2 linked regions of the Homo sapiens genome follow. The protein of the gene in region 1 purifies or fractionates together with the protein of each later gene. This does not show direct contact. Each region holds a gene or a part of one and is shown on either strand. Other genes may lie near its edges.

Region 1 (5,118 bases):
TCCCGGAGCAAGCCCGGTGCGCAGGGCCGGGGGCGTGGGCGGCTGCTGCCAGAGGCGCTCTCTGTGTGTTTTTAAGGACTGATTTGGGCCGCATCCCCCGGAAACTAAAGTGGGGTGTTTTACCGTTTAAATAACGGCTACAGGTTTGAAAGCGGGGTTGGATTTTCGAGTTGTGTTTGGTAATAGTCTTTGAGGCAGGAAAGCGCCTTGTGGTCCAAAGTTGCCGGGAGGGTGGGGAGAGTCGGTGTCTTACCCGCTTCTTTCCAGCCTCTTTCAAATTGAAAACACTTCTCTGGTTTCCTTCTTTGGGCGGTAGTTTTGGAGGCTGTAATGAAATCGCACTTTCTCTAGACGTGGTAATTAAGGTGACTGTTTCCTCCGCAGATGTGCCCTACCCTTTGCACCTCCGGACCAGCGCTTTTTTTGGAATACTATCTAGCCTTGAGACTGTTTAGCAGAAAGTGGCCATTTTCCTCCCTTGGCCCGGGCTCCCGGTTTCCTCCCTGAGGCTTGTTTAAAAGCGAAGTAGCAGGGCCCCGTGGGACGCGCCTTGGTCTGGGTAATCACCCCCACGCCCGGGTCATCCACCTTCCTCTCGGTGACCGAGGTTCAGCAGCCTCTGCTATTGCCGGCCGTCTTTGCCGATGGCCTGCCTCCCTAATGACTTGTTTACATATCCTACCCCCAGTGGGTTAGGAGAAGCTCCGGGGCTGCCCCGACCCTCCGAGTGCAGGGTGTTTGGGGACCGGGAGGCTGCTGGGGCCTGACTCCAGCTGGGAGGGTTATGAACTGCATCAGTGACGAGCTGCTTGAAATATCTGTTGCATTTACTCTTAGTCATAGCTGAGTGTCAGCTTTTTAATGAGGTTCATCCAGATTGAGAGCCACTTGGACTGCGTACTTCACTGCCTGCTTTTCCAAACATGCCTGCAGAAATGCTCATTTTCGAGGTATTTTTCCCAATGGGAATTCAGGCCAGAGTGGGCACCACTTGAACAATCTTAGGGTGCTTCTTTTCCTTGGCCTCTGGCCATGGAGGGTGTTAGACAGTTCCATTAGGTGGCCCTTTGATAGCAAGGGAAGCAAAGGCTCAGGAAGAAATGGAGAAGCGTCCCCCACTCCCTAGGGGCAGAGGATTAGATACATCGGTGCATCCCTCAGGCTGGGCTAGCTTTATTCCTGGTGGACTCCAGAGGGCAAGAAAATTGAATTGAACACTGGGTAGGCAGATTCAAGCCTTAGAGACCAAGGAAAATCCATGGGTTTTGCTTTTAGTGGTGTGCTCTTTGTTTTCAGTATTGACCTGAAACAAGACTCCTAAAATGAGAGATTTGCTGGTATGAACTTGGGGGTTTAGCAGCCGGCTTCTACAAAGGCTTTTTTCTTGCCTTCGTTTCTAAAGTGTCTTTCGTCAAAATGGCTGTTAGTTATAGAACATCCTAGCAAAGTTTGAGCCTGTTGCTGCTGGAGGAAAAGGAGTTAGAATTGATTCAAATGTCTTATTCTGAAAGGGCCTCACATCACTTGATAGTTTAATTTCCTCCTGGGAAATTTGTGTCTTACATTTGTCTTCCCCAGAGCTTTGTAAAAGGCCTGAACGCACCAGGGACTAGTGGGAGCCCAGATGCAGAGCTTTAGAGAAGATTCTGGTGTTTCCAGAGAGGATGAAATGTCAGACTTGGGCTAGGATATTTGTTTTTCCTCCTAAGGTTGCATCTACTTTAAACAGAAATTCTCTCCTCGCCACCATTTATCTCTCCCCTGCAATGAAAGAAACCATGTTTAGGGCCCTCTCCCCCATTTAATAGCCCTCACATGGATGAACTATCCCAAGAATTTGGTGGGGTTCCACTCATAGTACATCCTGTCTTCAAGAGCAAGGTTTTCTAGATTATGTGCAGCAGTTCGTGTTTCACTTGTTGCTTTTTTTTTTTTTTTTTTTTTTTGAGATAGTCTCGCTCTGTCGCCCAGGCTGGAGTGCTGTGGCGCTATCTCAGGTCACTGCAACCTCCGCCTTCCGGTTGAAGCGATTCTCCTGCCCCAGCCTCCCTAGTAGCTGGGATTGCAAGCATGCGCCACCATGTCCGGCTAATTTTTTGTGTTTTTAATAGAGATGGTGTTTCACCATGTTGGCCAGGCTGGGCTTGAACTCCTGACCTCAAGCAATCCGCTGGCCTCGGCCTCCCAAAATGCTGGGATTACAGGTGTGAGCCATTGTGCCTGACCACTTATTGCTAATTTTTTATATGTCTCTTACTTCCAAGGACATTTAGACACTTTTTTTTTTTAAAGAGACTCAAAAAATTAGCATTTCCATTGGACCAACTAAAATTTAGCAAGCTGAGCTGAGTAACTTTCTCCATATGTTTATTAAGTACTTGCCCCCTGCCCTCTCAACATGTGAGTAGAGAATGGTCACTTTGGGGAAGAAATAAGTCTTATTCTCATCTGAAGGGATTAATGTTTTGGTGTTACTTCCTCAATTCTGAAGAACCAAGTTGTCCAGAAATTTTCTCAGGGTTCTTTGGACTAGAGTTTGGCTGGTTAACAAGGGGTACTACCTAATTGCTTTTCTCTGATATTCTCAGCCTCTTTTTCTGGAGGAGTATCTCTGTCAGTTTCTTTTCATCAGCCCTTTTTTTTCCTTCATTCACTTACTCATTCATCCAGTTAACAAACATGTTGGCATCTCCTGTGTACATGCTAGGTGCCGAGGGTGTTAGCAAAGGTTAGGGAGGCACAGACCCTGTTCTGAAGGAGCCTGCAGTTTCGTGGGGAGAGAAGAGAATGAAGAACATAAATAACAATCATATAATATGACCTAAGTGCTATGTGAGAGGGGCTAGTAATGTGGTTTGCAAATTTGGAGGAATGAAATTCTCCAGCTAGAAGGCCCAAGAAAGTCTTATGGAAGAAACAGCTTCTTAAGGTGGGGTTCAGAGAAAAGGGAAGGGCTGGCCTGTTGCAGAACAAGGAATGGCATGAAGAAAGTCTTGCACAGAGGCATGGATGTTGCTTCGAGCTGTGGCGCCCTATAGAAATAGAACATGAGCAGCTGGTCACAGTGGCTCATGCCTGTAATCCCAGCACTTTGGGAGGCCAAGGCAGGCGGATTGCTTGAGCCCATGAGATGGAGATGAGCCTGGACAACATGGTGAGACCCTGTGTCTACCAAAAAATACACAAATTAGATGAGTATGCTCGTGCTTACTGGTAGTCCCGGCTATTCAGGAGGCTGAGGTGGGAGGATCACTTGAGCCTAGGAGGCAGAGGCTGCAATAAGCTGTGATTGCACCACTGCATTCCAGCCTGGGGGACAGAGGAAGACCCTGTTTAAAAAAAAAAAAAAAAAAAAAGCCAGGCACAGTGGCTCATGCCTGTAATCCCAGCCCTTTGGGAGGCCAAGGCAGGTGGATCACCTGAGGTCAGGAGTTCAAGACCAGCCTGGCCAACATGGTGAAACCCTATTTCTACTAAAAATAAAAAAATTAGCCGGGCTTGGTGGCTCATGTCTGTAATCCCAGCTACTTGGGAGGCAGGAGAATCGTTTGAACCCGGGAGGCGGTGGTTGAGCCAAGATTGCGCCACTGCAACTCCAGCCTGAGTGACAGAGCAAGACTCCATCTCAAAGAAAAAAAGAAAGGAAGAAAGAAATATAACATTATAACATGAGTTATGTATATGTTCAGATTTTCTAGAAGCCACATTGGAAATTAAGTTAAAAGAAAGAAATAGGTAAAAAAAATTTTTTTTTTTGAGACGGAGTCTCACTTTGTTGCCAGGCTGGAGTGCAGTGGCGCAATCTCGGCTCACTGCAACCTCTGCCTCCCGGGTTCAAGCAATTCTCCTGCCTCAGCCTCCTGAGTAGCTGGGACTACAGGCGCGCGCCACTGCACGCAGCTAATTTTTGTACTTTTAGTAGAGACGGGGTTTCACCATGTTGGCCAGGATGGTGTCGACCTCTTGACCTCGTGATTTGCCCACCTCAGCCTCCCAAAGTGCTGGGATTACAGGCGTGAGCCACCGCGCCTGGCCAATATTTGTTTTTTAATTAACTTGTTTGTTTAGATTTTATTTAATGTAACTATATTTCCAAAATATTATCATTTGAACATGTAATCAATATAGAAATTATTGATGAGATACTTTACATTTTTTTCATAACAAGTTTTTAAGATGCGGTGTATACTTTTTACTTATAGCATATCCGTTAGCACCAGCCACATTTCAAGTGTGCAGTGGCCACTGTGTGGGCCACAGGTCTAGAATATAAGACATGAAGATGGAGAGTGAGAAATGCCTTTGGAAAGGTTGGAAGTTCCTGTCCTTCTGCTGCCAATTACCAAATCTCCTGAGAGTGCTATTAAGGAGTGACTCAAAGCACTACACAAAGAGAATTATAAATATCTTAATATTATATCTGAAATCCAAATGCATAATTCTTTACATTTGGTTGGTACTTTAGAGAGGAGAGAATGGGCACAGTCACCCACACCACCCATTTGAGCCTCATAATCACCTGTGATGTGGCTTCCTCTAGGTGGGAAACCGAGGCTTAGAACGGTTAAGTGACTATCCCAGGGTGGCAAGATCATAAGTGGAAGGGTGTGAATTCATACTGTCTCCAGCGGACAAGAATAAAAAGACCCAGGCTGGGTGTGGTGGCTCATGCCTGTAATCCCAGCACTTTGGGAGGCCACTGTAGGTGGATCTCCTGAGCCCAGGAGTTCATTACCAGCATGGGCAACATGGTGAGACCCCATTTTTATTAAATATACAGAAAATTAGCCCAGCTTCTCGGGAGGCTGAGGTGGGAGGATCACTTGAGTCTGGGGGATGGAGGTTGTAGTGAGTTGAGATCGTGCCACTGCACTCTAGCTTGGGTGACAGAGCAACACTCTGTCTCAGAAAGAATAAAAAGATTTGGCCATGAATTCGTCAGCTAGTTTTCCTTACATAATTTTTGGACAAGGAGATCTGACATTCATAGGTTTTTCTCTTAGAAGTGGGAGAGCTTCAAGGTCACGTGGTCCGTCCAGCCCCTGCTATCTCACCAGACACTGTCCACCCTGTATGTTGGATCAGTACTCCAGTGAGAAGACAGCAGGCACTTTCACC
Region 2 (5,118 bases), on another chromosome or scaffold:
GTAGTGTCCCATTTTGTAAAACAGTAGTGATCCAAAAAGCCCCAAATGCATGTATGTATGATTTTGTGAGAGTTGAGAAAACTCAGAAAAGATACATACTAGATTACAAACCTGGGCAAGGTGTTGATGTGAGTAGGAGAAGGGAATAGGGATAAGGAGCCAAACAATGAAGGAAAGAGGGAAAAACATTTATTGAAATAATTCAGTATTACATTTATCTACAACTGTACAGTGTGTGTATATAAGGAAGTGAAATTGTTACCTTTTTAAAATTAAGAGGGGGCCGGGCACGATGGCTTACACCTGTAACCCCAGCACTTTGGGAGGCTGAGGCAGGCCAAGATTGCGCCACTGCACTTCAGCCTGGGAGATAGCGAGACTCCCTCTCAAAAAAAAAAAAAAAAACCATTGGCCAAGTCAGCAAAGGCCCTATATTGTATAGTTTCATTATATAAAATCTCTGCAGTAGGCAAATCCATAGAGACAGATAATAGATTAGGAGTTGCCAGGGGCTGGAGGATTGTGAGAAAATGGGGAGTAACTGCTCATAAACATGGAGGTTTTTTTTGTTATTGAAATGTTTTAAAATGCATTGTGGTGATGGTTGCACAATTATGTGACATACCAAAAACTCTTGAATTATATACTTTATTATTATTATTTTGAGATGGAGTCTTGCTTTGTCGCGTAGACTGGAGTGCAGTGGCGGGATCTTGGCTCACTGCAACCTCCACCTCCCAGGTTCAAGCGATTCTCCTGCCTCAGGCTCCCGAGTAGCTGGGATTACAGGCATGCACCACCACACATGGCTAATTTTTGTGTTTTTTTTAGTAGAGATGAGGTTTTACCATGTTGGCCGGGCTGGTCTTGAACTCCTGACCTCAGGTGATCTGCCTGCCTTGGCCTCCCAAAGTGCTGGGATTTCAGGCGTGAACCACCTCAGCTAGTCGGGAGGCTGAAGTGGGAGAATTGCTTGAGCCTGAGAGGCAGAGGTTTCAGTGAGCCGAGATCATGCCACTGCACTCCAGCCTGGGCAACAAGAGCGAAACTCTGTCTCAAAAAAAAAAAAAAAATTATATTCAATGAATATAACTGAGTGAGTAAAAGAATGAGCCAAAGACCTGGAAGAGATCTAAGGGGTCCATGATTCCAGATTTCAGGCGGGGCCACATTCAACTATCATTTCTTCCAAATTTTTGCAGTGGAATACAAGTTTGAAACCTGGTTATCTCCTTAATTCTCCATGTGCTGTGAGGAGATTTGGCATAAATTGAACAATTGGACTTGAGTATTTCCATCTAATATTAAACTACCTTAAGTACTTTGGCACTGCAGAAATGTAAAGCATCCCTTTTATTTGTCATTTCTAGGGGAGGTAACTCCAGGACTATCTCAGGTGGAATATGCACTTCGCAGACACAAACTAATGTCTCTGATCCAGAAGGAAGCTCAAGGGCAGAGTGGGACAGACCAGACAGTGGTTGTGCTCTCCAACCCTACATACTACATGAGCAACGATATTCCCTATACTTTCCACCAAGACAACAATTTCCTGTACCTATGTGGATTCCAAGAGCCTGATAGCATTCTTGTCCTTCAGAGCCTCCCTGGCAAACAATTACCATCACACAAAGCCATACTTTTTGTGCCTCGGCGAGATCCCAGTCGAGAACTTTGGGATGGTCCGCGATCTGGCACTGATGGAGCAATAGCTCTAACTGGAGTAGACGAAGCCTATACGCTAGAAGAATTTCAACATCTTCTACCAAAAATGAAAGGTAACAAATGGGAGCAGAAGTCACATTACAAACCAGATTGGGATTAAAACCTTTCTTGCCTGTTTAGACAAGTCCTTAATTTTGTTATCGTAGCACCACCATGAAAAGACCATGAGCACCATGAAAGAAATGTAAAGTCTTTTTCAGAAGATTGAGCTTCTTTAAAGATTTCATTTATGCCTGGTGCATTGGCTCACGCCCGTAATCCCAGCACTTTGGGAGGCCGAGGCAGACAGGTTCCTTGTGGCCAGGAGTTCAAGACCAACCTGGCCAACATGGCGAAACCCCGTCTCTACTAAAAATAGAAAAATTAGCCAGGCATGGTCGCAGGCGCCTGTAATCCCAGCTACTCAGGTGGCTCAGGCAGGAGAATCACTTGAGCCCGGGAGGTGGAGGTTGCAGTGATCCGAGATCATGCCACTGCATTCCAGCCTAGGCAACAAAGCAAGACTGTCTTAAAAAAAAAAAAAGATTCATTTATTCATTTGCAGGAGGTTACAGTGAGCCAGTGAGCTAAGATCCCGCCACTGCACTCCAGCCTAGGCGACAGAGCAAGACTCCATCTCAAAAAAAATAATAAAATGAAAGTATATAATTTAAGAGTTTTTGGTATAGTCATAGAATTGTGCAACCATCACCACAATGAATTTTAGAACATTTCAATTAAAAAAAAACTCCATGTTCACTGGATTATTCATTAATGGAGACTGTTACCTATCCTAGTTTGAAATCTCACAGAGAATTTTCTTTTAAAGCAAAGGATAAGCCAGACACAGTGGTGTACGTCTGTAGTCCAGCTACTGGAGAGGCTGAGGTAGAAGGATCGCTTGAGGCCAGGAGTTCAGGTCCAGACTGCACAACGTAGTGAGACCCCATCTCCAAAAAATAAATAAATTAAGGACAGGATGGGCATGGACCACTCTTCAAGATTACTGACCAGCTTCTTGATATTTGACAACTACTTCTTATCTTAGTGCTCTTGCCAGCTCTTCAAAAGGAGGTACTGTTCTCCAAGAACGATCCATGCATCACAGCATCAGAATCACCTGGTAATGCATATTAAAATTAAAAATGCATAATATGTAATAGAAATTAAAATCTCAGGCCTCCATCCCCTATCTACTGAATCAGAATCTGCATTTTAACAGATCTTTTGTGGTTCATATACAGTTGAGTTCTTTTTTTGTTTTTTTTTAGGCAGGGTCTCACTCTGTCACCCAGGTTGGGATGTAGGTATAGTGGCACACTCATGGCTCACTGCAACCTCGAACCCCAAAGCTCAAGCAGTCTTCCTGCCTCAGCCTCCAGAATACTGGGACTACCTGGGCACACCACTATGTCTGGCTAATTTTTTTTTATTTTTTTGTAGAGATGGAGTTTCACTTTGTTGCCTAGGCTGGTTTTGAACTCCTGGCCTCAAGTGAGCCTCCCACCTCAGCCTCCTGAAGTGCTGGGATTACAGGTGTGAGGCACCGTGCCTGGCCATAGTTGAGTTCTTGTCCCTCAAAGAAATTACTTTCTCTACAGTTATTCTGGTGAAATTTTAATCAATCCGAATGTTTTGAGATTTTTCTTCTGGGAATTTTTTCAGAACCTACACCACATTATAAACTATCTTTAGTAATTCTTAAAAAACTTTAGCTCTGGGAAGTATTTTATTTTTTGAAGTATCTTATTTGGAAAATAAGATAGATGCTCAAGTTTAAAAATACTGATTTTAGGTCAAGATAATGTATAATTATAAAGTTTTTGTTTGATTTTTCTTACATGGGTTACAAATCATATCTGAAGTTAGCTTCTAAAAGAGAATTCCAAAAATGTTTTTCACAATCATAAAATATATTAGACTGTTTCCTGTAAAGCCTCTTTTGGAAGAAAATACTCATTTGAATATGTAAGTTCTAATACATTTGATTAAATTCTTTTTATTTATAGAAATGTTTTCCATTTTATAGATAATTAGCCTGTTCAATTCATTGAACTTTCTTATGTCTTCAAAATCCACATAAATGTGGGGCATAGAATCATTTTCTTTCTAGCTTTTTTCTTACATTAGTTGCTACTTGTCATGTTCTACTGTCTAAGTTTTATTAATTCAGTATAGTTACAATCTCATGTAAAATAAATTTCTCAAAAGTACTTCTCGGTCACCATTCCTTTTTTTTTTTTTTTGAAACAGAATTTCGCTCTTGCCCAGGCTGGAGTGCAATGGCACCATCTCGGCTCACTGCAACTCCTGCCTCCCAGGTTCAAGTAATTCTCCTGCCTCAGCCTCCCGTGTAGCTGGGGTTACAGGCACGCGCCACCATGCCCGGGGAATTTTTCTGTTTTTTTTTAGTAGAGACAAGGTTTTACCATGTTAGTCAGGCTGGTCTCGAACTCCTGACCTCAGGTGATCCACCCCCCTCAGCCTCCCAGGGTGCTGGGATTACAGGCGTGAGCCACCGTGCCTGGCTAAAATCATATTTATTGAAAGGTTTAAAAACCTTTAAAAAAGTGAGCTATGATTTCATACACTTTGAACGTGTAGTAGAGATTGTTTTACTTTTTAAAAATTACAACAATTGGCCGGGTGCAGTGGCTCACGCCTGTAATCCCAGCACTTCGGGAGGCCAAGGGAGGTGGATTGCCTGAGATCAGGAGTTCGAGACCAGTCTGGACAACATGGTGAAACCCCGTCTCTACTAAAAATACGAAAAAATTAGCTGGACGTGGTGGCATGCGCCTGTAATCCCAGCTACTTGGGAGGTTGAGGCAGGGGAATTGCTTGAACCAGGGAGGTGGAGGTTGCAGTGAGCCGAGATCGCGCCACTGCACTCCAGCCTGGGTGACAGAGCAAGACTACGTCTCAAAAAAAAAAAAAATTACACGACAATTAAATTTCCATCTATCGTAAGTAGGAAGGTGTTTCCCATGTAGTATATATTTAGAACCATTTTTATTTTAAAAATGAAAATATGTAGGACATAGAATCACATAGGACATAGAATCATAGAATCAGTGCATATCCAATCAAAGTTTTCTGGATTTTTTCCCCTCTACTTTCCCCAAAGTACTTTTTAGTCATATAAAATATTCAGACCTTCTCACTTGGATTGTTAGGAATACTGTTTGTAGCCTACTGTTAGAAAAAAAGAACAAATGTAGATCTGATATTAAGTGCAAATCATTTTTATAATGAGCCTTTATATCGTATATCTTAGGCAAATACAGACCATTTCCTTAGGTCTCTAAAGTTGAAAGCTGAACTGTGATTGTTTACAAAGAGAATGTATAGCAGATGCAAAGGGAGAAGTGAGGAAATATCAACTGTAGTTTTTCCATAGCAATGAATAATTGC

The links. The genes of interacting proteins can lie anywhere in the genome.
Region 2: the proteins of FGFR1 (region 1) and XPNPEP3 purify together in Homo sapiens (affinity purification with mass spectrometry; 2 studies listed by BioGRID and IntAct, with this or other methods). This does not show direct contact.

What each region holds. Positions count from the first base shown.
Region 1 is NC_000008.11:38,461,141-38,466,258, reverse strand, and holds part of FGFR1 (fibroblast growth factor receptor 1 isoform 1 precursor), read left to right. Parts: intron 1-5,003; exon of another isoform or gene 5,004-5,118. UniProt on the Homo sapiens protein: Tyrosine-protein kinase that acts as a cell-surface receptor for fibroblast growth factors and plays an essential role in the regulation of embryonic development, cell proliferation, differentiation and migration.
Region 2 is NC_000022.11:40,880,400-40,885,517, forward strand, and holds part of XPNPEP3 (xaa-Pro aminopeptidase 3), read left to right. Parts: intron 1-1,370; coding exon 1,371-1,778; intron 1,779-5,118. UniProt on the Homo sapiens protein: Catalyzes the removal of a penultimate prolyl residue from the N-termini of peptides, such as Leu-Pro-Ala. Also shows low activity towards peptides with Ala or Ser at the P1 position.